Linked DNA regions of Homo sapiens: all the other regions are linked to region 1. Evidence: fine-mapped expression QTL. A gene starts in region 1. Each other region holds a variant in brackets. All regions are shown on one strand. Distances are between the middles of the regions.

Evidence for each region. PIP is the estimated chance that this variant, and not a neighbour inherited with it, causes the effect.
Region 2: its variant is fine-mapped to the expression of SLC49A4 in whole blood (INTERVAL, PIP above 0.99).
Region 3: its variant is fine-mapped to the expression of SLC49A4 in whole blood (TOPMed, PIP above 0.99).
Region 4: its variant is fine-mapped to the expression of SLC49A4 in whole blood (INTERVAL, PIP above 0.99).
Region 5: its variant is fine-mapped to the expression of SLC49A4 in whole blood (INTERVAL, PIP above 0.99).

What each region holds. Positions count from the first base shown.
Region 1 is chr3:122,791,317-122,797,631 of GRCh38, reverse strand. SLC49A4 (solute carrier family 49 member 4) reads right to left here and starts at 2,563. Exons shown (of 9, transcript NM_032839.3): 1 at 2,097-2,563. The coding sequence starts at 2,439. HSPBAP1 (HSPB1 associated protein 1) reads left to right here and starts at 3,801. Exons shown (of 8, transcript NM_024610.6): 1 at 3,801-4,015. The coding sequence starts at 3,952. RefSeq lists a silencer at 2,237-2,726.
Region 2 is chr3:122,884,270-122,890,584 of GRCh38, reverse strand. It overlaps LINC02035 (long intergenic non-protein coding RNA 2035), which reads right to left and starts at 4,072. Exons shown (of 1, transcript NR_024618.1): 1 at 1-4,072. RefSeq lists an enhancer at 76-165. The variant C/TC (reference allele first, on the strand shown) is at 3,007.
Region 3 is chr3:122,906,004-122,912,318 of GRCh38, reverse strand. SEMA5B (semaphorin 5B) reads left to right here. Exons shown (of 23, transcript NM_001031702.4): 19 at 1-147; 20 at 250-399; 21 at 784-828; 22 at 1,274-1,479; 23 at 2,018-3,237. The coding sequence ends at 2,176. Among named protein-coding and RNA genes, the nearest start is that of LINC02035, 23 kb to the right of the region's middle. The variant C/A (reference allele first, on the strand shown) is at 3,237.
Region 4 is chr3:122,747,897-122,754,211 of GRCh38, reverse strand. It overlaps HSPBAP1 (HSPB1 associated protein 1), which reads left to right. Exons shown (of 8, transcript NM_024610.6): 6 at 1,538-1,621. It overlaps LOC124906363 (small nucleolar RNA U13), which reads right to left and starts at 3,840; the gene lies at 3,737-3,840. The variant T/A (reference allele first, on the strand shown) is at 3,147.
Region 5 is chr3:122,701,362-122,707,676 of GRCh38, reverse strand. PARP14 (poly(ADP-ribose) polymerase family member 14) reads right to left here. Exons shown (of 17, transcript NM_017554.3): 6 at 6,042-6,315; 7 at 3,699-3,935; 8 at 2,929-3,150. Among named protein-coding and RNA genes, the nearest start is that of PARP14, 24 kb to the right of the region's middle. RefSeq lists an enhancer at 6,087-6,315. The variant G/T (reference allele first, on the strand shown) is at 2,587.

The DNA of each region.
Region 1 (6,315 bases):
GGTAGGAGAAGCCCTTCTTCGGCATCTAGCACACATCCTCTGCAAAAGTATTTGCTCTAGCTGGAAGTTCTACAGCAGTCAAGACACACCCATTCAGGGCTGGGTATCTTTGTTAGAAGGTTCTTCCTTGTATTGCTTTGAGTTACATTTCTTTGTAACTTGACTCAGTCTAGTTCTTCCTCCTAGAACAACACATAAGTCGAATTCCTCTTTGACTTGATCTTCACATAGTCTATATCTTGCCTCAAGTTTCTTTTTGAAGTGTGATACACACAAGTTCCCTTCATTTTACACATCATGATTTTTATACCCTTTATCATTCTTGTCGCAGAACCTTTAAAGTTCTGCAGTTTGTCAAATGGCCTTCTCAGAATCAAGCTCAGAACTAAACACTAATGTAGAGCCTATCAAACTATTTTGCTTCTTGTTTTGGACACTATGTTTCTATGCCTAAACTGTCCTTTCTTTTTTAGCAGCTACATTATATTGTTGATCATTAAGGAATTCACAATCAACTATTCCTTAGTCTTTTTCACATGGATTCCAATGAAGGAATTCCAGTGAAGGAGGAGAGAAGGAAGTATAACTACTAACATCACCCTGCTATTCTATTCTCTTAATAACCAACTAATTTTGAGTGCTAACTACATGCCAGACAATTGCAATTCTATACCTACCTACACTTGACTTTTGCTGAGGTCTGAATGTGTTCCCCTCAAATTCATATTTTGTTTATGTATTAATTTTTCTGAGACGAGTCTTGCCCTGTTGACCAGGGCAGAGTGCAGTGGTGCCATCACAGCTCACTCCAGCTTCGACCTCCTGAGCTCAAGCAATCCTCCCACCCCAGCCTCCCAACGTGCTGGGATTACTTGAGCCACTGCGCCAGGCCTCAAATTCACATTTTGAAATCTTAACCCTCAAAATGATGGAATAAGAAGGTGCAGCCTTTGGAAGGTGATTAGGTTATGAGGGTGGAACCCATGTGAATAGGATTACTGCCCGTATAAAACAGACCTCAGAGGGATTCCCTAACCCCTTCTTCCATCTTATGTTATAGTGAAGAGACCACTGTGTAGGAAGCAGGCCCTCACCCGACACCGATTCTGCCTGAGCCTTCATCTTGGACTTCCCAGCCTCCAGAACTGTGAGAAATAAATTTCTGTGTTTATGAACTACCCAGTTTATGGTATTTTGTTATAGCAGCTCCAGTGGACTAAGACAACCTTCCAAATCTGACTAAAGAACTCATTGCAACAAAACTTATAAAAGGTTGAACAGAAACTGTACAAAGTAGCTCCCAGGCATTATTCAATTAATAAATATAAAATCTTGCACAACAGCCTCTTGAGGGTAGACTGTCACTACTAATCATTTATCCATACTTATGTGGTAAGTATGCCTTGATTCTCAGCCCTATGGCTTTTTCTTCTCAGAGAATCACACTGGCAAGTGGTAAAGTGAGATGTCCAGGGTACCATTCTAAGCAAGCATCTTCACTCATCTGCAAGCTTTAATTGAAAGTCACAAATCTCAACTGAGAAAGCCATCTAGTCACATACACACATTTTAAAGCTGCCGAGCACCACCTTCCAGAAACCAAAGTGTCAGATCTGAGTTTCCCAATAGCTCTTCCTGGGCTGGAGTCATCTATTACACAAAACGAACTCATTATTTCCTTACATATGGGCACCGTCAATCTATTTTCCGACCTTTCATCCTCAACATCCCCATATCCCTTTGAAGTCAAAGCATCAGTCATTTTTGTCAGGTGTAAAACACATACACCGCACGTGCACGGGGATGCTCTGATGTTCACAATGTGTAAAAACTTGAACGTTTAGAGATCGCTTAAATCCCTGGTGTTGCATAAAGGGCCTTGATAAAAAACATAAATATTTGCAAGGTTGCCTTTCCATATTTGTCGCTTTGGGGACGGAGGGTTCCTAAGTCAGAAATGGAATGCTAGCAACACTCTATCACCTCACACAACCCCTATGCCGGGGCCAAGGGAGGCGGCTGGCAGGCCTGGAGCGCGGGCAGGCGCCTGCTCCCGGAGGAGAGACAGCGCGGGCTGGCGCTCCGCGACCCCTCACCTCTCTTGTCCAGGAGCCACATGAACGCGAAGCAGGGCAGGAAGCCGATGGGCCCCCACAGCACGAGCAGCGCGATGTCCCAGCTGGAGAAGCCGTAGGCCTGGCGCGCCGAGTTCTGGATGGGACCCCAGGTGTTCCAGACCAGGCCCTGAACGAACGCCAGCAGCGAGAAGAGCAGCAGCACCAGCCAGCGGCGCCCGTATACCCGCCCGGGACCCGGGACCGCCGCGGGCAGCGCCGCCGCCGCCGCCTCCCGGCTTCTCCAGGAGGCCCCCAGCCCAGGCCCGAGCCCGGGCCCCAGCAGCGGCTGCCTCTCCTCTTCGCTGCTCCAGCGAGAGCCCATGGCGACGCGTCGCCCGCGAAGCCACTGCCGGGCGCAGTCCGGGTCACCGCCGACTAGCCCAGCGCAGAATAGTCCTGAGCAGCAGGAGGCGGAGGCTGCTGTGGTCGCCCTCGGCCTCCGGACCGCGCCTGGTGCGCCTGCGCGGCCCGAGCCGGGCCGGCGGGGAGGCGGGGAGGCGGGGCAGGCGGCAAGGAGGCTGGGGTCCGCCCTCCCCTCCGCGGGTGGCGAGGAAACACCGGCGAGAGGAAAGGAGCCAGGTCCCAGACGGAGGGCAGGTAGCGCTGAAAAGGCAGGGACCAGCGCGGCTGAGTCGGGGAGAGGGAAACTCCCAGAGAGGCTGTATTCGAGGAGGTTGGGCAAGGAACCCTGGGGTGTTTGGAGGAAGTGTCCAAGTTAAATCTTGTGCCTAATAAACAACTCAGTGACCTGTTAAGTGACGTCAGTTAACCTGATGCTTGCTTCTATTTTGGGCTTATTCTCATTTTTGTTGAGTTAGTAACTTCAGAAATTATAGGCGAAGGATAAAGTTTAAGCGTAGTTGGTCCCAGGGGATTATCTCATAAAAATCATTTCTTACGTGCAATAAGTACTACCTATTTTTGTTACTTTTTTGTCTTACATATCCAAAGAGGAGATTCCAAACTAGCCAATTTCATTCATATATATGTAAACTTTACCCATTTCGCCTGCCAATAGGCGAGCAATAAAGGTATGTCCAGTAAAGTTGGAAGATTTTTGCCCCAAAGATCCATCTCCAGTGATTATGATTTGACCACAGGGTAAACGAGAAGAAAGGTGGTTGTTGATCTCTTCACACAGCTGTTTGTTTATTTTGGTATACAAATTCAGAAGCCTGACAGCTGTGGATTAGTGTCCTTGAAAACCTAAAGTCAAGCAATTTGGCTTGTCTGGATCGGGAAATGAGTCACAGGGAACGCAATCACAGGATTCTTTGCCCGAGGTTCGTATTTCCCGGCAGCCACTAAAATCAGAAGGAGTCAGGTTACCACCAGAAGGGCAAGAGAGGTGTAAGAGAAGCGTGAGCTAGCCTCGCATTCCAGGCTGCCAAGAGCGGCTCGCGAAAGCTCACGGCAGAGACCCATCCCACCGCCGGAGCCCCACTAAGCGGCAAACCTTCCCCTAAAACTCCAATCCTTTAGGGTGGAGAAAAGCCGAGGTGGAAAGGAAGGATCTGACTAGAAAAGGAGAAACAGAAACGAAGCTAAGACTACAATAAAGAACGCTAAGGTCCGGGTTAGGTAAAAAGCGCCACAACTCAGACCACGTGTTTGTATTTCCACACCCGGGGTATCAAAACAAAGCTGCGTGGTCCCGCCCAGCATCCGTCACGTGACCTCCACGTGAGAGCCGGCGTTTCCGTAGGAGCCGGGCGGGAGTCGCCGGGGCTCCTTCCTGTGGTGCAGCTTCGGGTCTCGGAGTTTGGCCCCTACTCTGACCCCACCCCAGCTCCGCTCCGCCTTGGGTTCCGGCAGAACCCGCCTTGCGGTAGCCATGGCAGCAGGCTCCGAGGCGACCACTCCTGTGATCGTTGCGGCTGGGGCTGGAGGGGAGGAAGGTAGGTGCCAGGCTGAGGTCCGACCCTGAGTACAAACCCAATGCCAGTTGACTCTCGTGGCACCCCTCGTGGGGCCGTTTGCCTTAGCCCCAACCCAGGTCTCTCTGGCCTTGCATTAGACTATGAAGAAAAATCTATATTTTCTAGTGAGCGTGGCATTTCTCGAATTGTGGCATCCAGATTTTTGATCGTCGTAGGGTAGCCTACGAGTGCTGTTTCACGCATGGGGTGTTATTTTTGTTTTGTTTTGTTTTATATTTGCCCATCATTAGCTAAATAGAGGTGTTTTGAACGTTTAGAGGGGATTAAAATTAAATTTGTGAAATTGAAGGCAACCTTTGAGATTAATGGAAGTTATCTGAGACTTTTGTGAACAGGGATTATGCGCTTTTATTCTATTTCAGTGAACCCTGGTTTAGCAAGTGGGGATGAGGTTTGGAGGCCCATGAGCCTGAGATCCCTGTTATTATTTATTGAATGATTGCACCGTGCAGGGCTGTGTTCTGAATACTGTCGCAGGATCCAGAGACTTTTGAATATTTATAACAATACCTTTTCCAAAGGAGCCTAGAAAGGAAAAAGAATGACTTACTATGTGGTCACCTGAACTATTCTACCAGTAGTACACTCTGTGAGGGTTGTTAGGAGGAGGGATCTCAGTGGGGAGAACATAAATGCTTCAAGGAGCGAATAGTTTGAGGTCGGCCTTTCTTTTTCTTTTCTCTCTTTTTTTTTTTTTCTTTTTTTGAGACGGAGTCTCGCTCTGTCACCAGGCTGGAGTGCAGTGGCGCGATTTTGGCTCACTGCAACCTCCACCTCCCAGGTTCAAGCAATTCTTCTGCCTCAGCGTCCCAAGCAGCTGGGACTACAAGCGTGCCACCACGCCCAGCTAATTTTTGTATTTTTAGTAGAGACGGGGTTTCACCATGTTGGCCAGGATGGTCTCGCTCTCTTGACCTTGTGATCCGCTGAGGTGGGCCTTTCTGATTGGATGAGATGGTGACAAACTCAGGGAGTGGTGCTGGGGTTCAGGAAGTCAGGGAGCAGAAAAGGATGGATGTATTTAGGGGTCAAACAGTTTGCTGAAGGGGGAGATGCCCATTCCAAGCAGAAGAAACAAATTATAGCCTCCTACTATCTGACCACTTTCTACCAGGGAGACAATTCTTGACCTTCATCTATACCTCCATTGCATTGATCTTTCCATTTTCTATCCACTGCACCCCCTTATCCAGAATGTATGTCGTTCCTTTGAAAAATTCTCTTGTCCCTTCCTGCACTTTTTTCTGACAAAACTCTTACTCTGGATGAAGTCAACCTTTTGCCCTCTTTGTACCTGCACCCGTGGGCCTGAACTTTGCTGGAAAAAGTCCTGCACAAACTGATGACCGTATAAAGTGAAAATGGCCAAACTCTTGAATATTCAGTCAGTATGGGCTTGAGATCCCTCTGATCCTCTGTTTCTCTAGTGAGCCTGCTAACGTTCTCCAATGACAAATTCCCAAACTCTATAACCTCTCTCTGCCTCTTTCTTAATTTCAGGTAATGACTTTGCAAGTCAGGTCAATTCTGCATCTAATCTGTCTACTTTTTTCCTTTCACTATCAGACCGTACTTCAAATCATCCACATTTTCTCACCTCAACTACTACTGTATCTTCCTGACTGACTTGTGTCTCTGTTTTCTATTCTGTGCCCCTCTAATCCCTTCTCCACTCTGCAGCAAAAAGTGACTCTTCCTTATGTAAAATTCTTCAGCGAATTACATTGCCCTTAGAAGTTAGAATAAAACCCAGATTCTTAACCGTGGCCTGTAATAATCCTTGGTCTGGGCTCTGCTGATGTCTTTAGCAGGATCTCTTGTCACTCACCTCCCCTTTGGCTTTTCACATAGCTGGCTTAATCTTTAGCTTTTAAAGTATGTCACCACCTGAGACCTTACCAGATCAAACTATTTAAAACAGTCACTGTGATTTCTCTTGCACCCCCCAACCCTAGATGTTCTGGAATACAGCATCCTGCTTCTGTCATTTTACTTACTACAATCTGTAATTATTTATTATTTGTTTTTTCCATTAGATCATAAGTACCTTGAGGGCAGGACCTATGTCTGTTTCATTCTCTACCATGTGCCCAGCTGCTAGTACAATGCCAGGCACATAGTTGGCACATGCCACATGTTTGTTGAGTGGATGAATAAGGGCACTCCATGCCAAGTCCAGAGGCAAAAGGAGAAAGCATGGCATGGTCCAAGAACTGAAAGAAGTTGGTGTCAGGAGTGGTAAGAAAAGAGGTATCCTG
Region 2 (6,315 bases), 93 kb before region 1:
CCAGATGGCTGGTTCTACCTTCTAGAGTTTCCACAAGGCTTGGAGTCAGCTGCTCACATTTAAGAGAAGGAAGGAAGTGTGAGATGTGAGGCTGCTTCCCCACCTCCACCTCCACAACTCTTCATGCTGGGGTCCTTTGCCCTGACTTGTTCTGCCTGTTTCCCCTGTCACTCTGTTTCTTGACCCCTCCCTCCCTCACACCCTCATTCTTTGAAAGCAAGAACTTCTAGTGCAAAGGGGAGTGGCTCTGGAACTGATGACAGAGGGAGGTTGTAGAATCTCTATCCCTCGAGAGCTGAAAAGGCAGCTAGCCAGACCCTCTGCAGGCAGGATGTGCTTGGAGGCGGGAGGCTGGGCCAGATGACTTCGTGAGAATGAGCCAGCTTCAGAGTTCTGCTTTTCAGAACCTGCTTCCACCACAACTCCATGCCTCCAAGCCTCCTCCTGTACTTTGGCTTGGCACACATATTAACAAATACGTCTACAGGTCTGGCTTCTATTTCAATACTCTTCCACTGCGGTCTCACAGATCTCCTTACATGGTTCCTGTCTCTCCCTTGGTAGGAGGCTCTTTTGGCCTAATCCCATGCCTTAATGAATGAATGCTGGCAGATCTGAAATCTTTGAAAGCTTGTTAGCTTTCCCTAAAAACCTTTTCACTTATTTTCAAGCCATCAAAACAGATTTCTCTGCCTTTCCCTTCAAAGGCTGTCCAGCGGCATTTTTTTAATTCTAAGAAGGTCACACATAACTATATATTGATTAGGGACAGCATGGATTTTTAATGGCCCAAGGAAACAGGATTTAGAACATATTTTCCCAAGAAAGTAAGATCCCGTACAGGAATCAAGACAGCTGTACAGATGAGCTACAAAGCTTCCAACAGCCCTTTTGGGGGTGTTGCTGGCTTTGAGTTAGGTTTTATGAATGGACTCACTGGAATGCAAATCTGAGGGCCAGGAGGCTGATTTGTTTGCTTCTGCACCCTCAGTGCCTAGCCCAGTGGCCAGCATGAAGTGGGAGCCCAAAACATGCTGGTGAATTATTAAATTATTAGCTACAGATTCCTCAATCCTGGTTCTTTTTTAAAAAAATCTTAATACGATCTGCTTTTATGATAAAATCCATGCCTGACTTTAGAGTGTTCATTATGTTCAGATTGTATAACAAAGTAGAAAAGATCATAGTCTGCTTTAAGATGAGAGAAACAGTTTTCCTAAGAAAAATTAAAGCTTTTAAAAAAAACATGAATGAAACTTCAGGACCTAGATAACCAAGAATTTACTGGTAAAGGAATACTGACAAAAGAGTGAAAAGGTAAGGGAATCAGCAGATGGTTCAATAGAGTAACCTTTTCCCAATTAGATGGAAGGACAATTACAGGCAACAGAATATAGCACGGAGCTTCTGTGCCTAGGTGGTCTATATTAAACTTGAGTAAAAAAAGAACAAATACAGGGACTTCTCTATTCTGAGATAGAAAAGGGTCAAACATTAGGACTAAGGTATCAATTGATTTCTTTTTCCTGAAAAGGTCAAGTGCAATTGACAAAAGAGGAGGAGGGAGGCCCAAGGTAGGGATTCTTTGGGACATGGGGCAAGGATCCTGGAGCCAAAACCCAAGGGACAGCGGAGGTATGGAGGAGAGGGATGGCTTTACTGGGGATACCTGTATTACTTACTACAATGATTTCTCAGCAATAACTCATTGATCAGGAAGAGTGAGTGCAATGCGAATTAGTGAATTCAGGGAAGGACTAAGAACCACCACCTTCAACACACACACTGAACTCTACTGAGCAGGCCCTATTCTTCCTATGGCAGGTAAGATGGGATCGACTCCCTCTCATGACTTCTTCCAGGCACTTTCTGAGTCACAGACCTAAACAGAAACAGGTAGTTATGTGTGTAGGCCAAGGAAGTGATTTTGTTTGGGACTTGTGGATGCAGTGTATTAGGATGGAGGCGGGATTTTCTTAATGCTTAATTTTCACAAGCCTCCAAAATGACATATTTCTGGTGGGGAGGGAAGTAAATTCGGAACTCGGGGCATTTGTAGTAAATGAAATAATTGGCAGGAACTAAAACCTGCCCTTTTTAGCATTCTTTGGGTTTCTGCAAAGGCTCAGGGGGCTGGGACTTCACTAGCAATACATCAAGTGTGATTAGGTTTACTCACACGTATAAACTGAAGGGTTTCTGCAGTCTCCAGCCCCCAAAGTAGCCCTGCTCTATGTGGCTACCTGATATCCCAAATTCTACCATTAGAAAGCCCCCTTTTGGTATTTAGCCTTTGTTCTTGTTAGTATTCAAATTCCCCTTAGAAAGGAGACCCACAAAGCCTTATGAGTATAAGCATCTTAGCATGTATGCATTTGTTAAATTTTGTCTTAAGAGAAGGCTGGGGTACCAACAACATTCCCAATTTCCCATAGGAGTAATAACCAATTCCTCAGCCATGGAATGATGGTAGGGTTGGGATTCCTCATGCAAAAATTAATTCTGTGCCTCCAGACAGATCCAGATCTTACTCATGAAAAGAATATCAGTGGGACAGAATGTCTTTTCCTCAAAATCAGTTATGGTTTATGATTTGAGAACAATATATGGGCTCCTGTTATGCATAATTATTTGGGAAATTGTCACTAGCTCTTTGTAATTGTTAGTTCAGGAGTGTGTTTTTTAAAAAAAAACCTTCTGACTGGGCATGGTGGCTCATGCCTGGAATCCCGGTACTTTGGGAAGCCGGCAGGAGGATCGCTTGAGGCCAGGAGTTCGAGAATGGCCTGGCCAACATGGCAAAACCCCATCTCTACTAAAAATACAAAAATTAGCTGGGTATGGTGGCGCATGTCTGTAGTCCCAGCTACTCGGGAGGATGAGGCACGAGAATCCCTTGAACCCGGGAGGCGGAGGTTGCAGTGAGCCAAGATCACACCACTGCACTCCAGCCTGGGAAACAGAGCAAGACTCTGTCTCAAAACTATCTCAAAAAAAAAAAAAAAA[C/TC]TTCATTTTTCTGATTATCTTTCACTGCCATGTAATTGTACATATATAAATTACTCTGCATACAGAATGAATAGTATACATGGATGAAGGAACGAATAGATATAACAGTCTGAAAGTTTCCCTAATGCTGGCACCTGTAACACATCACTAACAGGGCCTTGTAGAAGTTCCTTATTGGTTTGAGAAGATAATGTATAAACTGGGAGTACTGGTGGAAAAGTATTGCACTCATGTTTTCTACTTTTTGGTTGTGTGTGACCAAGGGGTATAGATCAGAGAACTGTAAAACTTTTCAGCAAAAAGAAACATCTTCTCTGACCCTCCTATTTCAGAAGTGAGGAAGCCAAAGTTCAAAGAGAACAGATGACTTGCCCAAAGCCCCATGTCTTCAGCCATGCAGAAGACAGACGCCCAGACTTCCTGACACTGAGGTTGGTCTTCTGGTTCACTTCTCTCTCTCAGAGCTATTAATATTATGCTCACATTATAGTCACGAGGAAGTCTTGTTGGCCGGACATGGGGGCTCACGCCTTTAATCCCAACTCTTTGGGAAGCTGAGGTGGGAGGATTGCTTAAGTCCAGGAGTTCAAGACCAGCTTGGGGGAACATAGTGAGACCCCTTCTCCATAAAAAATAAAAAATTAGCCAGGGGTGGTGGCATGCGCTTGTAGTCTTAGCTACGCAGGAGGCTGAGGCAGGAAGATCACTTGAGCCCAGTAGTCTGAGGATACAGTGAGCTATGATCATGCCACTGCACTCCAGCCTGGATGACAGAGACTGTCTCAAAACAAACAAACAAACAAAAAAACCCTTGTTTACTAACACTTGAGTACAGATCATTCCTTGACATGCTGAAACTTAGCTCTTATTCTGTAAAATATCTGCACAGTTTACTGGAAGAATCTGACCATGTGGAGATGGCATCATTGCAAAGCAACTTACAATTCTTTGATGCCTTAACTAAAGATGTAAGTTCAAGGATTGGCTTTACTACCTGACCTAACAGTTTTGATTTCTACAAGTGCAAACCCATGCTGCCTCATGATGAATCCAATCAAACCAAAGGACTCGTATCTCGTTTGATCTGATTCTGGTGAGCAAATGCAGTACCCCGACCTGGCTCCCAGTATGCTATCTCAACATCAGATGACAGATTTTTCTCTTATTGCATTTGATACATTTAATAAACCCTGTGTTTCATATATAAAGTCCTTTGGGAAAATAAACAGCACCTGCAGCTTATCTCCTCCCACAGACACTGAAAAAGCAATTTCTTCTTATTGAATGTGGATGCAGCATAAGATTTCATATGTTCACGTACAGGGCTCACATGAGGGGGGCTACCGCACAAATGGAAACACCAAGGTGCTGGGCACCTCTCCAGCTTTACAGACTGCACATGCTTTGGTCATGTTCATATTTAAATAAGAATCAACTGGTATTTCTGAATTAGAAGAAATCTAAGGGAACATTTTTGCTCACTCCCTCATTTTAGAGATGTTGCTAAAGGAGAAATGAAGTGACTTGCTCAAGGTCAAATAGCTGAAGTCACCAGGCCAGGGTTAAGAGCCAGACCCGTGGGCTCCTACACCAGTGCTCTTTTTCTCTGTCCTCTCTAGTAGGGTCCATGAAGAATCTGCATGCCCGGCTCTCTCCTCTCCACCGCTGGCAACTCGTAAAATCTGGGTGTCACACAGCTCGCTCCCAAGCATTGTCAGAAATAAGAAGACACCATCAGAAAGGGGAAAGCTGGATGGGCAAGAAGACAGGAAAGGAAAAAGTGACCAAATGAAGCTGAGCTTCTGGCCTGCTACAGTTCATCATTTCTACTGACAGCTTGAAAATTAGGAAAGACACAGAAGTTGACCAGGAAACAATAAGAATTATCAGAATCTCCATTAGCTATTTTTTCAAAAAACGAAATTGCACAAGCCAGGCTGGGCAACATGGTGAAACCCCATCTCTACGAAAAATATAAAAAATTAGCTGGCATGGTGGTATACACCTGTAGTCCCAGCTACTTGGGGGGCTGAGGCTGGAGGCTTGCTTGAGCCTGGAAGATTGAGGCTGCAGTGGGCTGAGATCACACCAGGGCACTCAAGCCTGAATGACAAAGTGAGACCCTGTCTAAAAAAAAAAAAAAAAATTGCACAAGATTATTCTTTTGGCTTCTGTTTTCTATAATATTGTGTGCCTCTGCAGAGACAGGGAAGCCAAGAAAGTCCTGTGGAGGAAATCTATATGGATTTCATAGGTCGGTTACTCACTTTCTTTTCTCACAGTACAGGGAGCTTAGTTGATGGTGTTAAGAACAGAAATTGTATTTCCAGTAAGAAAACACAATAGTGCATATTGGAACTCAACTCAATAATGCATATTGGAACTCACTTTTGAACTTTAGAATATGATAAAGCTTGATGGTACATAAGCAGGTCTGTGAAACACCTACATTAACCACAATATGCTACATCTGACAGATTCATCTGGGAGAGAAATAAGGATCTCAGAAACTTCTGCTTCTGCCCATAAAGTTTATACCAATATGGTCCAAGAAAGAGATCCCTAGGTGACTCGATTTTAAATGCCCCCCGAGTTTTTATACATAGATATGTAAATGCATACACAAGTTTCTTCTGAAAGAATGAATGATGATACCCTCTGGAGAGAATGGATTAAACAGCATGTTTGTATGGAGGTAGACTTTACTTTCTATTCCTGTACTATTTTATAATAGTTATACACTCATGTATTTCTCATGTAATTTTCAAAACTCTAAAAGAAATGAAAAAAATTACTTAAAAGAATTACTTATGGCTAACACATTGATCATTTAGGGATTGAATGCTGGTCTAGGAGCCAAGTGATCTGCTAAAACCTGGCTGTGTCATTTAACCTAAAAGGTTCTCTACTGATTTGTAAAATGAGGTGGCTGAATTAGATCATTTCTTTGATTCTATGATCCTTCTGGGTAAATGAGAAAGCCAATTAGAATTAGATGAAGCCTAAATTAAATAGTGCTTTAAAAGAAGTATCATTTTCTAACATTAAGGTAAACTGACAGTTTCTCCAAGTTATCCTTGCCATTTTGTTCAAGGTTGCAGAAGCTGTCTTTATAAATCAGAAGAATTTATAAAGTAGGGAATGCGAAGAGTTCTGTGATGTTTGGGTTGATATTCTGGTATCCCCTTTGGAGTCCCAAGCCTTACAATGTACTATGTCCAGCAAGCACGTTTAGAGTTAAAATAGCTTGATGTGTTTTGATTATTTCATCAAAGCTACTGAAATCAATTCTATGCTTTCATTTTTTAG
Region 3 (6,315 bases), 110 kb before region 1:
CCTCATGGTCTCCATGCTCAGCTTCCTGTGGTGGGGGTCACTATCAACGCACCCGTTCCTGCACCAGCCCCGCACCCTCCCCAGGTGAGGACATCTGTCTCGGGCTGCACACGGAGGAGGCACTATGTGCCACACAGGCCTGCCCAGGTATGAGGCACATCCCGCCAGGGCTGGGAAGCGACATGGAGCCCTCTGATCCCCACCAGGGGGTCCCTGGGCAGTTAACCTCATCCTACCCACAATCCCCAGAAGGCTGGTCGCCCTGGTCTGAGTGGAGTAAGTGCACTGACGACGGAGCCCAGAGCCGAAGCCGGCACTGTGAGGAGCTCCTCCCAGGGTCCAGCGCCTGTGCTGGAAACAGCAGCCAGAGCCGCCCCTGCCCCTACAGCGAGATTCCCGGTAGGTACCCCTGCCAGCACCTGCGCAGCAACCCTTCCCAGCCTGCACTCCCAACTTCCTTCTCCTTCTGAAGCTTGTGTCCTGGTGGGGAGCAGGGGGCACAGGATGAAACATGGAAGTGGGGGGAAGGAGATGCCGAAAGAAAACTCCCATATTTGCCTCCATGCACACATTTGGGGTTTGGGCCCTCCTCATCCTGTGGATGGGCTAGCCCTTCTCAGAGGTGGGGTCTGAGGAGAGAGGGAGGGGAATGAAGGCCCCCACGCCTACCTAGTCCTACGTCTGAGCGTTGACCTAGAGGTCCTCCCAGGCTTACGCCTACCCTGCAGGGCCCCCCTCCTCTCGTCTCCGCCCCTGACACCCTGTCCACTGGTCTTCCTGCAGTCATCCTGCCAGCCTCCAGCATGGAGGAGGCCACCGACTGTGCAGGTAAAAGAAACCGGACCTACCTCATGCTGCGGTCCTCCCAGCCCTCCGGCACCCCACTCCAAAGTCTGGACTCTTTCCACATCCTGCTCCAGACAGCCAAGCTTTGTTGGGGTCCCCACTGCTTTGAGATGGTGTGTAGGGTGGTCTGGGCAGTTCCCTCCATGCCCCCCCCAGCTAGGAGGCCATCATCAGTCTGTACCCAAGGAAGAGTCATCTGACTCTAGACCCTCTGGTTGCCACCTCTGACTTGAGCCACAGGGTACCTTGTGAAAGAGGTCCCCAGTGACAGCCTCCCCAGCCTCCCTGTTTCCTTTGGCTGTGGCCTCAGAGCCCTTTCCAGGATGCCTCAGAGCCTCCTGTTGCTGTTTCTGCTCCCAGGGAGGCAGGCAGGAGTCTGTCCTCTTCACAGTGGCCCTCATCTTACTACCTGCCTCTCTTCCCCTAGGGTTCAATCTCATCCACTTGGTGGCCACGGGCATCTCCTGCTTCTTGGGCTCTGGGCTCCTGACCCTAGCAGTGTACCTGTCTTGCCAGCACTGCCAGCGTCAGTCCCAGGAGTCCACACTGGTCCATCCTGCCACCCCCAACCATTTGCACTACAAGGGCGGAGGCACCCCGAAGAATGAAAAGTACACACCCATGGAATTCAAGGTGGGAGCCTTCTTTTTTTTTTTTTTTTTTGAGACGGAGTCTCACTCTGTCGCCCAGGCTGGAGTGCAGTGGTGGGATCTCGGCTCATTGCAAGCTCTGCCTCCCGGGTTCACGCCATTCTCCTGCCTCAGCCTCCCAAGTAGCTGGGACTACAGGCGCCCGCCACTACGCCCGGCTAATTTTTTGTATTTTTAGTAGAGACGGGGTTTCACCGTTTTTAGCCGGGATGGTCTCGATCTCCTGACCTCGTGATCCGCCCGCCTCGGCCTCCCAAAGTGCTGGGATTACAGGCGTGAGCCACCGCGCCCGGCCGGGAGCCTTCTTGTAGAAGCAGAGGGCAGGGTAGGAGGGCAGGGTGAAGAGTGCAGGGGTTCTGGCCCTCAGCTGGGTGGAACTGGGCAGTGGTGGTGTGAACAGAGCACTGGATCCGCAGTCTGAGTGTTCTTGCACGGCTGGCTTCTGGACTCCTTGCTCTGGCCTGTTCCCTTCCCCTGTGTGTTCCCTCACCCCTTTCTCTGGTTCCTTCTTCCACCCACAGACCCTGAACAAGAATAACTTGATCCCTGATGACAGAGCCAACTTCTACCCATTGCAGCAGACCAATGTGTACACGACTACTTACTACCCAAGCCCCCTGAACAAACACAGCTTCCGGCCCGAGGCCTCACCTGGACAACGGTGCTTCCCCAACAGCTGATACCGCCGTCCTGGGGACTTGGGCTTCTTGCCTTCATAAGGCACAGAGCAGATGGAGATGGGACAGTGGAGCCAGTTTGGTTTTCTCCCTCTGCACTAGGCCAAGAACTTGCTGCCTTGCCTGTGGGGGGTCCCATCCGGCTTCAGAGAGCTCTGGCTGGCATTGACCATGGGGGAAAGGGCTGGTTTCAGGCTGACATATGGCCGCAGGTCCAGTTCAGCCCAGGTCTCTCATGGTTATCTTCCAACCCACTGTCACGCTGACACTATGCTGCCATGCCTGGGCTGTGGACCTACTGGGCATTTGAGGAATTGGAGAATGGAGATGGCAAGAGGGCAGGCTTTTAAGTTTGGGTTGGAGACAACTTCCTGTGGCCCCCACAAGCTGAGTCTGGCCTTCTCCAGCTGGCCCCAAAAAAGGCCTTTGCTACATCCTGATTATCTCTGAAAGTAATCAATCAAGTGGCTCCAGTAGCTCTGGATTTTCTGCCAGGGCTGGGCCATTGTGGTGCTGCCCCAGTATGACATGGGACCAAGGCCAGCGCAGGTTATCCACCTCTGCCTGGAAGTCTATACTCTACCCAGGGCATCCCTCTGGTCAGAGGCAGTGAGTACTGGGAACTGGAGGCTGACCTGTGCTTAGAAGTCCTTTAATCTGGGCTGGTACAGGCCTCAGCCTTGCCCTCAATGCACGAAAGGTGGCCCAGGAGAGAGGATCAATGCCATAGGAGGCAGAAGTCTGGCCTCTGTGCCTCTATGGAGACTATCTTCCAGTTGCTGCTCAACAGAGTTGTTGGCTGAGACCTGCTTGGGAGTCTCTGCTGGCCCTTCATCTGTTCAGGAACACACACACACACACACTCACACACGCACACACAATCACAATTTGCTACAGCAACAAAAAAGACATTGGGCTGTGGCATTATTAATTAAAGATGATATCCAGTCTCCAAATGTCTCTGTGCATCTGTGCGTGGGCTCCTCTTGCATAGTCTAGGCAATCTGAGCAATGCACCAGGGTGGCAGATGGTCTCTCAAGGCGGGGGAAATGCCCCAAGTAG[C/A]CTTATCTTTAATAGATGATATCTTTCCATTTGTAGAATGGAAATACACATACAGTGTACACATACATTGTCCTACACCCTTTTTGGAAAAGATGTTGGGGATAAGCAGATTCACAAGTGGGGACATAAGGTACACCAAAGGCGACAAAACAGGCGAGAGTTCTGCCTGCTCCTTTAGCATCTCTTCAGGCAACAGCTCCAGGGTGTGAGTCCAGCGGGAGAGTGTTGATGAGAATTATTTTATGAGATATTTATACTGCTGAGTTTAATAAAATCAAATTTGAGAAACAGGCAAATCTGTGAGGTGGGAGAAGCCTAATATAGTTTTTGCTGGATTAAATAAAGATAACCTCAAAGCCTCAGCCCACCAAATCAATGCTGCCATTTTGGATGAGATTGACGGACATGTTAAATTTAGAGAGCAATTTCCTGACTTAATTGGCTGGATCAATTCTCCTAGGATTCCCAGCAGAATCTAATTGTAGGTCAGGCTGTAAAACCTGCCATCCTAGTGGTAGAGGAGGCGGAAGCTCTTGGGGAGTGGAGGGAGGAGTGCTTGAAGCTTAAAGGTTCCTGGAAGCAAGGAGGAGGAAAGAACATGCCTGAAATCTTTCCTGCTTACCTGGGACAACTGGAATGGCAGTGTCATCAGCACAGTGGAGCCCCATCCGAGAGCTCAGGAAGTATGTGAGTACTTGGGATTCCTGACTGGTTCCTCTTAGCCCCATGTGTCTCGAGCTCATGGGGGCCTACAGGGCATTTTATTTATTTATTTATTTATTTATTTATTTTTATATATTTATTTTTGAGACAGATTCTTGCTCTGTCTCCCCGATTGGAGCACAGTGGTGCAATCTCAGCTTACTGTAACCTCTGCCTCCCAGGCTGAAGCGATCCTCCTACCTCAGCCTTCTGAGTAGCTGGGACTACAGGCGTGTGCCACCATGCTTGATATTTTTTTTTTTTTTTTGAGAGGTGAGGTTTCACCATGTTGCCCAGGTTGGTCTCGAACTCCTGGACTCAAGCAATCTGTCCCCCTCAGCCTACCAAAGTGTTGGGATTATAGGCGTGAGCCACTGCACCCAGCTAGCAGGGCATTTTAGATCCTGGGGTCTCAGAGCCCCCTTGGACCAGAGGGTCATTGAAGTTTAAGAGTGTTCCAGGGCCCAGGGTGCCTGCTTCAGAAGGGCCCCTCATGGTGTGTTCAAGTGGAGGGACCAGGTAGGTCTGTAGGAAGTGGTCATGGAGACTTCCCGGGCAATGCCCACCCGATGTTGACTGCAGTGGCATCAGCAGAATGTCAATCTTTGAGTGCCAGTTCAACACACACACACACACACACACACACACACACACTGAATTCTCTTTGCAAAAATGTGGCTTTGGAGGCATGACCATTCAGAATGCATGAAGGATCCACACTGCTCGCAGATGAGCTGGCAAAGTTGGTAAGGGCTATTAAGTAAACAACCCTGGCCCAGAGGTGAGGAACCCCAGGATGTGCTCCCTGACAAGGAGGGTCTGGGGATCTCTGACAGATGTCAGGGAGCTGAGGCGTGAAGGGCAAGGGATTCTTCCTTGTCCCAGCTGGCTCAGCAGGAGTAAGGAAGATGCAGGAGTGGGTGCTCCAGGCTTTTTTGCATCCCTTTGTGTATAAATGACTTTTTGAGTGTGTATGCATTTTCTTATTAAAGTCATATGTATTCATTGCAGAAAATTTAGAGGATACAGAAAACCAAAAAGATAATCACAGTTATACTAAAAACCAAGGCAGAGACTTAGGGATTTTAAATGGTGGTATAAAGACATTTATCCCTCTTTCTCTCAGAATCACCCCCAAAACAGAATAAAAAACAAAAGTTCTGTCACTATTTTCAGTAAATCTAGGATGTATGTATAACCCCAAGTCATGATCCATGAAGACAGAAAGCAGATGGAGGAACCAGGCATCCAGTAGAATGGATGTGGGCCAAACTTAAGCATCCAAGTGATTTCAGAAAGAACCGGATACCAGAGAAACCAGGAATGAGAAAGGTGGGGTTAAGGTGGGGACTGAAAAGAGAGGGATTGGTTGTACATCTGTGTGTAAGCTTCAGCTAGACTTTCAAATTGTCTTCACTCTCCACCGTTACAGTCGTCACCACTCCGCTGTCTCCACAGGGGGCAATAAGTATGTTCCCTTAAGACAATGAACCAGAGAAACCTTGGACTTGGGGACACCAGGCCCAGAGGTGGGTGTGTGGTAAGGAGTTGTCTGGACAGACTCTGGTTGTCAGTGGGATTCAGCCATTGCCTTTCCTAAGCTAACTCCAAGACTCTGACAGCCAGGCTTTTCCTCCCCCTCCTCTTTTTCCTCCCCCTCCTCTTTTTCCTCCTCCCCTTTTTCTTCCTCCTCCTCCCCAGGCAGAAGACTAGAAGATGATCTTTTGAAGAAATGAACTAACCCTACAAATTCTGAAATAAGCTAGCTGGTCATCATGCTATATAGTCCTAGAGCAAAGTACACTCGTTTACAAACAGTACCCTGTACACAGAGCTTGCAGTTAGTTTTTAGTGCATCCACACTGCTTGCAGATGAGGTGGCATAGTAAGCAAAGGCTGTTTGGTAACCAGCCCTGGCCCAGAGGTGAGGAATCTCAGAATGTGCTCCCTCACAAGGAGGGTGGTACGAATCGGCACATAAGGATCACAGACATCAGAGGAAAAGGTCCAACATGAAAGAGACACCAAAACAAAGAAACAGATAAAGTGGAACTCAGTGAAAACAGAGACAATACAGAGAGAGCACTTCAAAGACACCATATTCTTCAGAAATGAGTGAAGATGCTATATGAAATAAATACGTGATGTAATTTTTAAAGGACATATTTAAGTTCATAGAAATTAAAAAATATGACAGCAAAAAAATTAGCTAAAGGGCTTAAAGAGACAAGAAATTTCCCAGAAAGTTGAACAAAAGACAAAGAGATAGAAAATAAGAGGGGATGCTCTGGTTTCCCTTCAGAATGAATAAATCTTTTGCCTTTTACAAGAAAAAAGAAAAGAAGAGGGAAAAGATAAGAAAACAAGAGGATCAGCC
Region 4 (6,315 bases), 43 kb after region 1:
TGGCTATTATAAGTAATGCTACTTTGAACATTCATGTACAAGTTTTGTGTGTACATATGTTTTCAATACTCTTGGGTATACCTAGGAGTAGAATTGCTGGGTTATATGGTAACCCTGTGTTTAACTTTTTGAGGAGTTGTCAAACTATTTTCCATAGCAGCTGTACTATTTTGCATTCCCACCAGCATTGTATGAGGGTTCCAATTTCTTTTTATCTTTCCCAACACTTGTTTTGCTTTTTTATCATTATTTTTACAGCCATTCCAGAGAGTGTGAAGTGGTTGCCAATTCATTTTCTCTTCTGTGTTTAATAGCCAAATTTGAGTGATTGGTTTTGCCTATTGTATCAGTTTTCCTTACATCCTATCCATTCTTTAATCCACTCAAACCCAGCTCTTTCTGTCACCACTTTACTGAAACTTTACTCTGATAGGACATGCATAACCTACTAATGACTATCAAGTGGCCTTTTATAGTTTCCAGTTTTCCTGAAAGGATCTCTCTTTCTATTTCCCAGTCCTGCCTTGTTCACAGCAAATACCAGTAGTTTCCTAATGTGAAGCCCAAAAGCTTCACATCATTTCCATCTACTCTGCTCTTAATAGGAAATCTCATACTGAGTCTGGATAGATGCCATCCTTCTTGACTCTGCCCATTGCTTTTGTTTATTATACCTTCCTATTTATATCTTAACGTTTAATAAGTGGACCTTTGCAAGTATCTCCTGTCCTTCTCAGACTCTCTCGATACCACTATTTTAACCATCCCCCTACTTAGAATTTCTCAACAACTCCTAGTGCCTACCAGATAAAATCTAGATTCTGAAGTCCGCTGTCCCTAAACTAATTCCCCTACCTTATCTCCCATTATTCCCTCTGTGATAGTAAGACTGACCTACTTGCTATCTTCTGTAGTCCTACCTCCCTCACCTGTACCTCTTATCCTTCCTGGCATGTCCTCATTCTTTCTGTGTCTAAATTCTCTCCTAGCCCGGGTTCAAATCACACTTCTTCCATCCATGTTGCCCCTGACCTCCCTAGTTCATGCCTGTTTCACCCACCTCTGAAATTCTGAAACACCATTGTCCCCTGATTTACCACTTCTATAATGCCACCTTTCTATACTTTATCTTCTCATTGGCTAGATTTTGAGCTGTGAGAAAACAGAAGCCACGTCCTATGTGTTTTACCTATGCCCTTTCTCAGAATGCACGCAACTATTTTGTGACGGAAAGGAGGAAAAATTAGAATCTCAGAATCATGTACTAAGATTTAGGTGCAGACAAAGAAGGCCCAGGATTAAAGAGAATAGAGATGCTGGCAGTATCCTTTGTAGAACATGTGAACTTGTCAATAAAAAAGGAATAAAAGGAAAAAAGGTTTGCGGGGTTTTTTTTCTTACTTTACTTTTCTCCAGCAATATTATTGTGAATTCATTTGTATTCCTTTTTTTCCTAGCAGCCTCAATTAGGGTCTGATTCTGACATAAAAATGAAACGTCCTGTTCTTGTGCTAACCATTCTTTGTTTGGTTTTCAGGTTCTCTTTGTTCCCAGACACTGGTGGCATTACGTAGAATCCATTGATCCTGTCACTGTCAGTATAAACTCATGGATTGAACTGGTACTTTTTCGTTGTTTTTTTTTTTTTTTTAAGTAAGTGCAAATCATGCTTTTAAAAGATATATAAGGTCTGGCTGTACAACTGGGTAATTAATTTTTTTTAACCAATGCTTCAGTATTTTTTTGTTGCAGTGCACTATAACGTATGCATTCTGTCTTCTGTTAATGGATGTTTAGGTTGGAAATTGGAATTTTAGTGGTGTGCCACTCTCTTTCTTTTAAGGACACAGAATGCGCCTGATGCTGGCATGCAGGGTCCTTTCCCTTGACCAGTGTTGTTAGGAAAATTGTATTGGGCCTGGCCAGATTTGCCGATATGTGTCCCTTGTTGCCGCTCCTCTTTCACACCATCTGGGCTGGAAATACCTGCTTCTTGGTTCAGGGTCATTACTAATTGCAGAATTCTGTCTTGGCTTCTACATATTCTCAAAGCGGAGTCTTTCTTTCAGTGCTAGGTTTTTATCATTTCATTTCTGCCAGAAGCCTTTCCCTCTGATGTGTTAAGCTTAATCCTGGTTGCCTGCTCTATTTGACAATTAGAATAGCTGCTTGTTATGCTCAAGTCTGTCTCTTCAACTGGGGCCTTAATTGCAGCTGCCTCTCTTTAACCAGAGGCCCTGACTGCATCTCTGCTCTCCTTGACCTGAAGCCTGGATTGCATCTTTCTGCTCTGTTTGACAGCCGTATCCTCTCCCTAGTCTAGTTTTTCCTATCCTTTGCTAATAGGAATGGCTTTGGAATCAGTGGAACAGAAGGAATATTGTTACAGAAAGCTATGTTGTGTGGGCTTAGTGAAGAGTTGTAGCCCTTGAGGCTTAAGTGAGAGGTATGGCAGGAGATCAGTAGCGTCACAGAAATTTCGCCTATAGCATGCTGAACTGGAGTTGCAGCAGATGTCAAGGTAGAATCCATGGAGAACTTCCACTCCCAATGCCAAAGTCATATCTACAATAGCCCTGACAGGTGCTTCACCTCCCAAGGAAGTTCGCTTGTTGTTAAAGAGTAGAGCTGTCATCTTTTTAAAATATTTGAAAATACCTCCAAGTTTTTCCATAATCTTTTCTTCTTCCATGCTCAAAACCTCTTACTTTCTTTAATGGGGTGTTTTTATGGGTGATTTTTTCCTTTTTCCAGACTTTTTACCATTCTGGCCATAGACTTTGGAATCAGGCAACTTTAAGATACAGGTTACCTTTGTTAGCTGTCTAACATAGATAATTACTTAATCTCTTCAAGCCTCCATTTTCTTGTAAAATGAGGATTATAATTGAACCCACCTCAGTAGAGTAATTGGACAACACATTGTAAAAGCATCTAATATAGTGCGTGGCATATGGGAAGTGTTTAAAAAGTAGAAATTGCTATGAGGAGGAGGGAGAGCTATTATGTCAAGAATAGTTCTCTTAATATATAGTGCCTAAAACTGAATATCAGTAGGCCTTATTTGGTAGAGTATAAGATTTCTACCCCACATGATCTCGATCCTAAATATCTCCAGTGCTGCTTGTAATATTGGGTTAGTTTTT[T/A]AAGTAATCTCATCTCACTTTAGTTTCATATTCAACTTTAAAATATCTGTGATTTTTTTTCACATGATCTGCTGTCAGGCAGGTTGAATCCTATCCTGTACCTATAAAGCTGATTTTAATTCTAAATCCAGTATTTCACAGTCATCCCTGTTAATTTTCATCATATTGGTTTGGTTGAGCATTCCAGCTTGACAAGATAATTTTAAATTTGGGTCTTATCTGTCATTTTAGTGAAACTTCAAGCTGGCCTGTGCCCTTTTGATATGTCCCCGTTAATTAGACTTTGAGTGTATCCTGGCTTTCTGGCACAGGAAGATATCCCAGGATACCCTTTCTCCTTTAGTGCCCCACACTTGGAAGTCAATCATTTCTCCAGGTAGCCACAGTTCTTTTTGTAGGAAATGGCATTTAGAAACTGAGATCTCAGCTCTAAATCTGTTCATTGCTCCTGGGTGTCAGTGTTTCTAGGCTCTTTCAGTGATGTAGCTAGAATGTGAGATAGATAGATAGATTAGATAGATAGATAGATAGATAGATAGATAGATAGATATTGATGTATTTATATTTCTAATTCATGTGTTTAAAAAATATATCTAGACAGGTAATATGCTGACGTCATAACAAGGCTTAAGGGAGGCATGTCTCACACATGAGCATGACACCCAATCATCAGACTTATGAACTATAAAAGTATCTAATTCAAGTTTAACATGATAGAATTTTTTATTTGTTTCTGTATTTTTATCTCTTCTCTTAACACTGAAAATCTGGGTCCTTAAAAACAGTAACATAAGGCCGGGCACGGTGGCTTACGCCTGTAATCCCAGCACTTTGGGAGGCCGAGGTGGGTGGATCATGAGGTCAAAAGATCGAGACCATCCTGGCCAACATGGTGAAACCCTATCTCTACTAAAAATGCAAAAATTAGCTGGGCATAGTGGCACGCACCTGTAATCCCGGCTATTCGGGAGGCTGAGGCAGGAGAATCGCTTGAACCAGGGAGACAGAAGTTGCAGTGAGCCGAGATCAAGTCACTGCACTCTGGCCTGGCAACAGAGCGAGTCTCTGTCTCAAAAAAAAAAAAAAAGAAAGAAAACCAGTAACATATTTACTTGTTTGCTGTATCCAGCAATATATTTTTTAAGATATCAAATTTGGCCGGGTGCAGTGGCTCACACCTATAATCCCGGCACTTTGGGAGGCCGAGGCGGGCAGATCACATGGTCAGGAGATTGAGACCATCCTGGCCAACATGGTGAAACCCCTTCTCTACTAAAAAAATACAAAAAATTAGCCGGGCATGGTGGCGCATGCCTGTAGTTCCAGCTACTCAGGAGGCTGAGGCAGGGGAGTCACTTGAACCCAGGAGGTGGAGGTTGCAGTGAGCTGAGATCGCGCCATTGCACTCTAGCCTGGTGACAGAACAAGACTCCATCTCAAAAAAAGAAAAAGATGTCAAATTTATGTTTCCAAAATTCAAATAGTAATATTACTACTAACCATAAAGCTTGCAAGTAAAAATTAAGATTTCTTTGCAATTCTTTTTATTATTAGACTGTATCTATCACTAAGAGGGATAGATACAAAGTCCTTTATTCAGGAGTCATTGTGAAGGAATTCTTTTCATTTATGGTTATTTTACTAATTGGATATTTAGTTAAGTTCATTTGTTTCAGTTTGTTTTCAATTTTAGGATTTACCTTTTTAAAATTTTGATCTAATTTAATATTTTAAATATGTAGAACATTTAACTTGTCAAAACTATGTTAAAAGTTATACTCAGGGAAGTCTGCCTTTCATCCCTGTTCCATCCACTCCATTTTTCCCAACCTTTATAGAGATCCATTTTTATTCATTTCTGGTTTATCATTTCCAGTGTTTCTTGTAAACATATATATCTATATCTATATATAAAAGTAAGTAAATGAATAGATATATTTATATATGTAAATAAGTATATAAACAGTCTTATATGTACAAAGTGCATAAGCATATAAATATGTCTTTACTTATTTATATACTTATTCAAATATATTTTAAATTTTCTATCCTTTATTCCATAGAAAGTAATAAACTATAGTGTTCCATACCTTGCTTTTTTCAACAATAATATCTTGAATTTCACTACATAATAGTACAGAGAAATATTCATATTTTTCTTCAACCACTGTCTAGTACTTCACTGTATGGGTGCTCTACTGTTCATTAGTTCCTTTAAGGATAGATGTTTGGGTTGTTTCCAGTCTTTTGTAATTACAAATAATGCCACTGAATAACCTTGTGCATATGTTGTTTTATATTTGTTGAAGTGTGTCTTTGGGGGAGATCTTAACAATGGATTTGCCATGTCATAGGGTAAATGTATCTTTAATTTTGTTAGGTTTTGCCAAATTCAGCTTCATTGTGATTGTGCCATTTTGCATTTCCATTAGTAGTATGTGAAAGTGCTTGTTTCCTCCACAGCCTCACCAACAAAATCTGTTGTTGAACTTTATTGTTTTTGAGTCATAATTAGAAACCAAGGTCATATGACCCTTTCCAGGTCATAAAGGAATTCACCAATGTTTTGTGTTAGAATTTAGATTGTTTCATGTTTTTTGCATTTCGATCTCTTATCCATTTGGAAGTTTTTCACTAGGATATAGTATAAGTTTGAGATCTAATTTTTTTTTCTTTTTTTTTTTTTAATTGATCATTCTTGGGTGTTTCTCACAGAGGGGGATTTGGCAGGGTCATAGGACAATAGTGGAGGGAAGGTCAGCAGATAAACAAGTGAACAAAGGTCTCTGGTTTTCCTAGGCAGAGGACCCTGCGGCCTTCCGCAGTGTTTGTGTCCCTGGGTACTTGAGATTAGGGAGTGGTGATGACTCTCAACGAGCACGCTGCCTTCAAGCGTCTGTTTAACAAAGCACATCTTGCACCACCCTTAATCCATTTAACCCTGAGTGGACACAGCACATGTTTCAGAGAGCACAGGGTTGGGGGTAAAGTCACAGATCAACAGGATCCCAAGGCCGAAGAATTTTTCTTAGTACAGAACAAAATGAAAAGTTTCCCATGTCTACTTCTTTCTACACAGACACGGCAACCATCCGATTTCTCAATCTTTTCCCCACCGTTCCCCCCTTTCTATTCCACAAAACCGCCATTGTCATCATGGCCCGTTCTC
Region 5 (6,315 bases), 90 kb after region 1:
ATAAGTATATGGCACCACACCCAGCTACGTTTTTTGTTTTTTGTGTTTTTTTGTTTGTTTGTTTTTTGTAGAAACAGGATCTCCCTATGTTGCTCAAGCTGGTCTTGAACTTCTGGCCTCAAGTGATCCTCCTGCCTTGGCCTCCCAAAGTGCAGGGATTAAAGGTGTGAGCCACTGTGCCCAGCCTCAAAGAAGATTTAGTGAAATAGAAAATAAAAGCGAAGGATATTAAATAAAATAATTTATAATCACAATCCTTTATTTATTTATTTATTTATTTATTTATTTATTTATTTGAGATGGAGTCTCATTCTGTCACCCAGGCTGGAGTGTAGTGGCACAATCTTGGTTCATTGCAAACTCCGCCTCCCAGGTTCAAGTGATTCTCCTGCTTCAGCCTACTTGGGAGGTAATTTTTGTATTTTTAGTAGAGACGGGGTTTCACCATGTTAGCCAGGCTGTTCTCCTGACCTCAGGTGATCTGCCTGCCTTGGCTGCCCAAGGTGCTGGGATTACAGGCATGAGCCACCGCTCCGAGCCAATCCCACTTTTAAAAGTACATATGTAAAAAAAAGCAGGCTGGAATAAAATCCAACTAAAGAATTTATGCATTTTGCATTGTTCAAAGTTTCTACAATGAACATGAATTACCATAATGGTCAGTCAAAGCAAATAACTTGCCAATTGTAAAAACTACAATGTTAAGAGAATGACCATCACAAGGTCCCAAACACTTCCGTTTTTAATTTCCTATTTGTACCAAAAGAGGAGGGGCTGAGGAGTCATGATTTTTGGAGCAAGTAGCTGGTGTATGTATTCTAGTGTTAATAAACCTGTGAATTTCATTTTTTTTTTTTTTGCCTGTTGGTGACCCTCCATAATCATCATTTTCTTCCTCCTTGTAAACAAGCAACAGATAATTTTGTTGGAAAAAAAACAAGTAACATCTTGGCTAAAGATAGATGCAATAATGGGAGAAGGAACCAGAGAGAGGGTAGAGCAAAGATCTCAGACTCACAGGCTTCTAGGAGCCAGGTAGGTAAGGCACATGTGTAAAGGTGGTCTGATTTGACTATGGAGAACTAGAGAACACCTGCCACTCAGCCATGGAAAACTTCCTGTCCCAAGCAGGAAGCCATGTTTAATGTGCCAGAAGTTTTGAAGTTTTAGGTTGTAGTGAATATCTAGAGTTTTATGTAAAATTTTTGATTTTTAAATGTTAGCAACTGATTGAAATTTTTTTTTAATAATCTAAATAAAGCACATCTAGAGGCCATGTTCAAATCACAGGACTGCTGCTTTGCATCCTCTGTGACAGTCTCCATCTATAAACATCTCGATAAGCTTTGCTGATTTTTTTGTGCAAATGTAACCAAAGTTTAACTGTCTTTAAAAGTCTAAAGAGAAAAAGTGTAACAGACACATACAGAGAATTTCAAATGGTACTAAAGGCATCTGTATAGACTAATTCTTTTTACAGAGTATTTGAAAAATACTCAGTCTTCAGGAAAGAAAATGAATGCTGAGGTTGCATGAAAAAGAGTGATATTTGAAGGTTCAGGTCTGTGTCACAGGACTCATGCTGTATTCAATCACCCATGCATTCAAAAACAGCACTTCATGCCTCTCATTTAGTTCATTTTGTGTATATAAATCTTAGCTCCAAAGTAATTGTGATTTATAGGAGGGAAAGTATGTGCTATTCCTATTCGTCCTGTTCCACGATCCACATCACCTTGCACAATGCAAGTCATAGGGAAATTATTTTAAAAGCTTCTGTTGCACAGAAGAGTAACTAATTATACGGGACAAGTAAATGGACCACATATTTTACTCAGGTGGTTTGGCTGCCTGATCAGAATTCAGGTCAGATTTACTTGCTTCCAAAGAACTTATAGGTAGTATCTAGCATCACAGAAAAATGAAGCATTACCTAAAAATTCAGATGGTCCAATGATCCACAGGTATCTCTTGGGTTGCTGATCTTAATCTGTTTGATCAATTTTTGCAGTACCTTGGGAGCTTTTCAAACACTGAATGTCATCTACTTTATTTGATTAAGTAAAGACTCGGAGTGCAGGGATAATGGCTTAAAAGCCTGTTGTGCTGCCATAATGCTGAGTCCAGTGGCTCTCCCACAGCTGATGTGAGCTGAATCATGAACTCATGATTGATGATAGTTCTGGTGTTTCTGGTCCCAACTCTCCTATTTACATGGGAATGTGCTAATCCATTCTAACCACACCTTCTGACATCTTCCTATTGATAAGGCCAGACTGTGCTTTTATACTATGTATTAAAATTTCTATGTCCATATGGAGGGAAATCCTATAGTCAACTCCATTGCAATATGTGGGCCTTATTTGGATTCTGATTCAAACACAAAGCTGTAAAAACAAAACGTTTATGAGATAGTCAGAAATTTGAGAATTGATTTGATAATTGGTTAAAGGAATTATTGTCCATTTATTTTAGGTGTGATACAATATTGTGGTTATGTTACTTTTTTAAAAAGAATTGTTATTGTTTAAAATAAATGTTGAATTGTTTATGGATAAAATGATATGTCTGAGATTTGCTTCAAAA[G/T]AATATAGAAGGAAGGGAAATAGATGAAGATAGAGATGAAACATATTGGCCATAGGTTGATAACTGTTGAAGTTCAGTGATAGGTACAAGGGACTGCATTATACTATTATGTCTACTTTTGGATATGTTCAAAATTTTCCTGAATAGGAAGTTAAATTTTTTCTACATCTGTAACTTTTCTTAAAATTTGTCATGCTACAACTACAACTACAAGTATAAACTACCTTCTTACTTTCCTGAATGGGGAAATGAATGAAAAAAGTATCCTGTTAGACCAAAAAGACATTTGAAAAAACACTAGGTCTCAGTTGCCAAAATAATCAGAAATTAGTGGCACTGTACCTGAATATTTTCATGATCACTCGGGTGCAGCAGAAAGTGAACCTCTTGTAAAGTTTTCAGCTGATTCTTGCTACTAAATTTGAACACCTCTGAAATGATTAATTCAGCGAATATGTTTTTAGGAAATCCCAAGTTTCCTGTTCCTATTGCTGGAAATGCAATTGATTTTAAGGACAAGCTCTCAGTGATCTCCATACATTCTCTGATTATGTCTTCCATTATCTGAAACGCACAAAGCACATCCTTATACATCTTGTCTAGAAATGGGAGTTAGAACAAAAAGGACAAGAATTTAGCAACTTTGTGAACTTGAATACTCCTTTTTGCTGTCAACACTGATTAAGGGCAATCAGAAGAGGAAAGAAAAATACAGGAGAAGGCAAGGAAAAGGAAAAGAGAATGCGAGAGACTTAAACACATTCACAATGAAGGAAAGAAGCAAAGCAACTACTGTTCTTTTCCTTCATTCTCTTCCATTCTTCACACCCTCCTCTGGCTTTCTTCACTAAGCAAGCAATAATATTATCTTCAGTAACCCTTCCCTGAGCTCCAATAATTATTGAGCACAATAATCCATTTATAGTATTAACTAGTCCTCAGGAGAAGTCAGCTACAGCTGAAAGAAATGGCCACATGATGGAATCTGCCAAAAGAGTGATTATTATGGAAGAGAAACAGACAAGGCCCAATCTATGTCCAATTAATATGCTACTAAAAGGAGAACCCAAAGGGCTACCCAACTTCATGGAGAATTCAAAACCAGGCCCAACCTTGAGTGAAGATGTGCTACCATTTCTCCACTCCGGAGCTACCACGTGAAGCACATAGCGACAGTCCAGATTCCAGCTGCTGGTTTTGAGCACTGTGCCCATGCTGACAGCCACCCCTTGTCCAACTGTGTCCAATTCCTCCTGGAGCTCTGGTCCAGCTTTTTCCAAGAGGGACTTAGAAAGAGGCCCTCTACTAAGCACGAGATCCAAGGGAACGGAGTTGACAACAACATCGGTCTTAAAGACAAAACCAAAAATTTGTTTCAAATTTTAACAAAAAGCATTCATCAATGATTACTATATTTGAGGCACTGGGCTTGGCACAATTGGAGACAACTAAGATGACTACGGTTTCAGTGATTGAAATATCAACATAAGACAAAGTGTGACTAAATACTTATTGAAGTGACACTTAGGAAAAAAAGAGAGCAGTCAAAAAGTAATCTATGAATGGTATGGCATCACTGAAGGAGTCCAGAGAAAGCTGTTTCAGTAACTAGTGAAGATACCATGGGCAATGTGGGGTTTGAGAAATGGGAAGAATTTCAGCAGGCAGAGCAAGACAGGGAGCAGCATGAACATAGGCATGGTGGGTTGTGAGCTGTGAACAGATTAATTTGATCTGAGAGAGCTTCTGCAGCAAAATGGTATGCTCCAGGCTAGAAATGTTACACTGGGGGTAAACTAGGGGGCCCACCTCGAGTGCCAAGACATCTGGACTCCCTGACAGAAAGGGAGCAGCCCCGGAAGCTTTTTCATCAGTGAATGTGAGCAGATTAATCGGGCTAGATTAGAGAGGTCAAGAGAACAGAGGAGAGGGAATGTAACCAAGTGATTTTCAAAGCTGCCCTGCCTGGGTCACTAAGGAGTAATGCAGAGCAGTTATTACAGCCATGGAAGCTAAGCATCTATGGGAGTGAAAGGAAAGCAAACTATGACTGTTTTTTGTTTTTTGTTTTTTTTTTTTGTTTTTTTTTTTTTTTTTAAGAGAGAGGGTCTTGCTCTGTCCACCCAGGCTGGAGGGCAGTGGCATGATCATAGTTCACTGCAGCCTCAAACTCCTAGGGTTCAAGTGATCCTCCCACCTCAGCATTCCGAGTAGTAAGGACTACAGGTATGAGCCACCATGCCTAGCTGGGAAAGAATGTCTTGATATTTGGTGTCAAAAGAGACAAGGAATGAAATTCATTCCCATAACTGATGCTTGGTCCAAAGAGTTTTTATTTAATTTTTTAAAATGAGACACAACATTATTTTTAACATTTTGAAAGAGTGCAATGGTTAAGAGCCTGAACAAATTCCAATCCTGGCTCTACCATTTGCTAGTTGGGGGATGTGGGCAAATTACCTAACCCCTTTAAGTCTCACTCCCTCATCTGTAAAGTGAGAATAATAATAATCCTAGAATCTGCCGCATGGCAGTGAATGAGAACATGCATGTCAAAAACAGCACAGTGCTGGCTGGACATGATGGCTCACGCCTCTAATCCCAGCACTTTGGGAGGCTGAAGCAGGCGGATCACCCGAGGTCAGGAGTTCAAGACCAGCCTGGCCAACATGGTGAAACCCCATCTCTACCAAAAAAAATACAAAAATTAGCCAGGCGTGGTGGCATGCACCTGTAGTCCCAGCTACTCGGGAGGCTGAGGTGGGAGAATCACTTGAACCCAGGGGGCGGAGGTTGCAGTGAGCCGAGATGGTGCCACTGCACTCCAGCCTGGATGACAGAGAGAGACCCTGCCTCAAAAAAATAAAAAGAAAAAGAAACATATTAGCCTCCCTCCAACCCCTGCCATGCCCCTGCAGCCTACAAGAATTGTCCCCACATATTGCCTGGCACCTGTAACTTCCTCAGGTCCACTTTTCACTTCCTCACTGGTGTTGGGCGCTGATGGCCCCTTAGACTCTGGCCCCAAGCTCACTCTTGCTCAGCATCATTGACAAGATTCCTGTCCTCTGCATACCCTATGCTCTGATTGTTCTGTATCTGCTGTCAGTAAATTAGGAAATTAGTCTTAGATTTACCAAAACACGGCAGGTGTAAGGTATAGAGAACTGTCTAAACGTGTGATATTATGGAGTTTTACATCTACTGGAAATCTAGCAATCTGACCTCTATACCCTTTCAGTTCTCACAAATAATTGGCCGATCTCTATTAGTAAATGATTTGGTAAGAAGCCCAATTATCTAAGGAAAATTGTTTCAAGGCAGGGGTGGAAGGCATGGGATTCTCTCCCTTGATTCTCACCTTGGTCCTTATCTTTCTTCAGCCCTCCATGAGAGAGCCACTGACTAAGTAAAGTCACAGTGCCCTGGTGGTGTTCTGTAAAAGCGACACTCACCTTAGCATTCTGCACACCCTCTTTCACCAACAGCATCTGCAGGCCTCCCGGGGACACCAGGCTTCCTTTTTCCCATGATGTTTTCCCAGGCCCCGCTGCTGCTGGTGGTAAACCTGGCGGGGCAGCTGTATCTGGCAGGGTGGCTTTAAATACAGTTTTCACAGCTTCTGCAAAGGCCTCAACAGTCTTCTCAGATACATCCACAAGGTAGATTTCTTTCAAGCAGTGTCCATCCTTCTTGAATTGGAAGTTTTCCTTGATGGCAGAAACAATG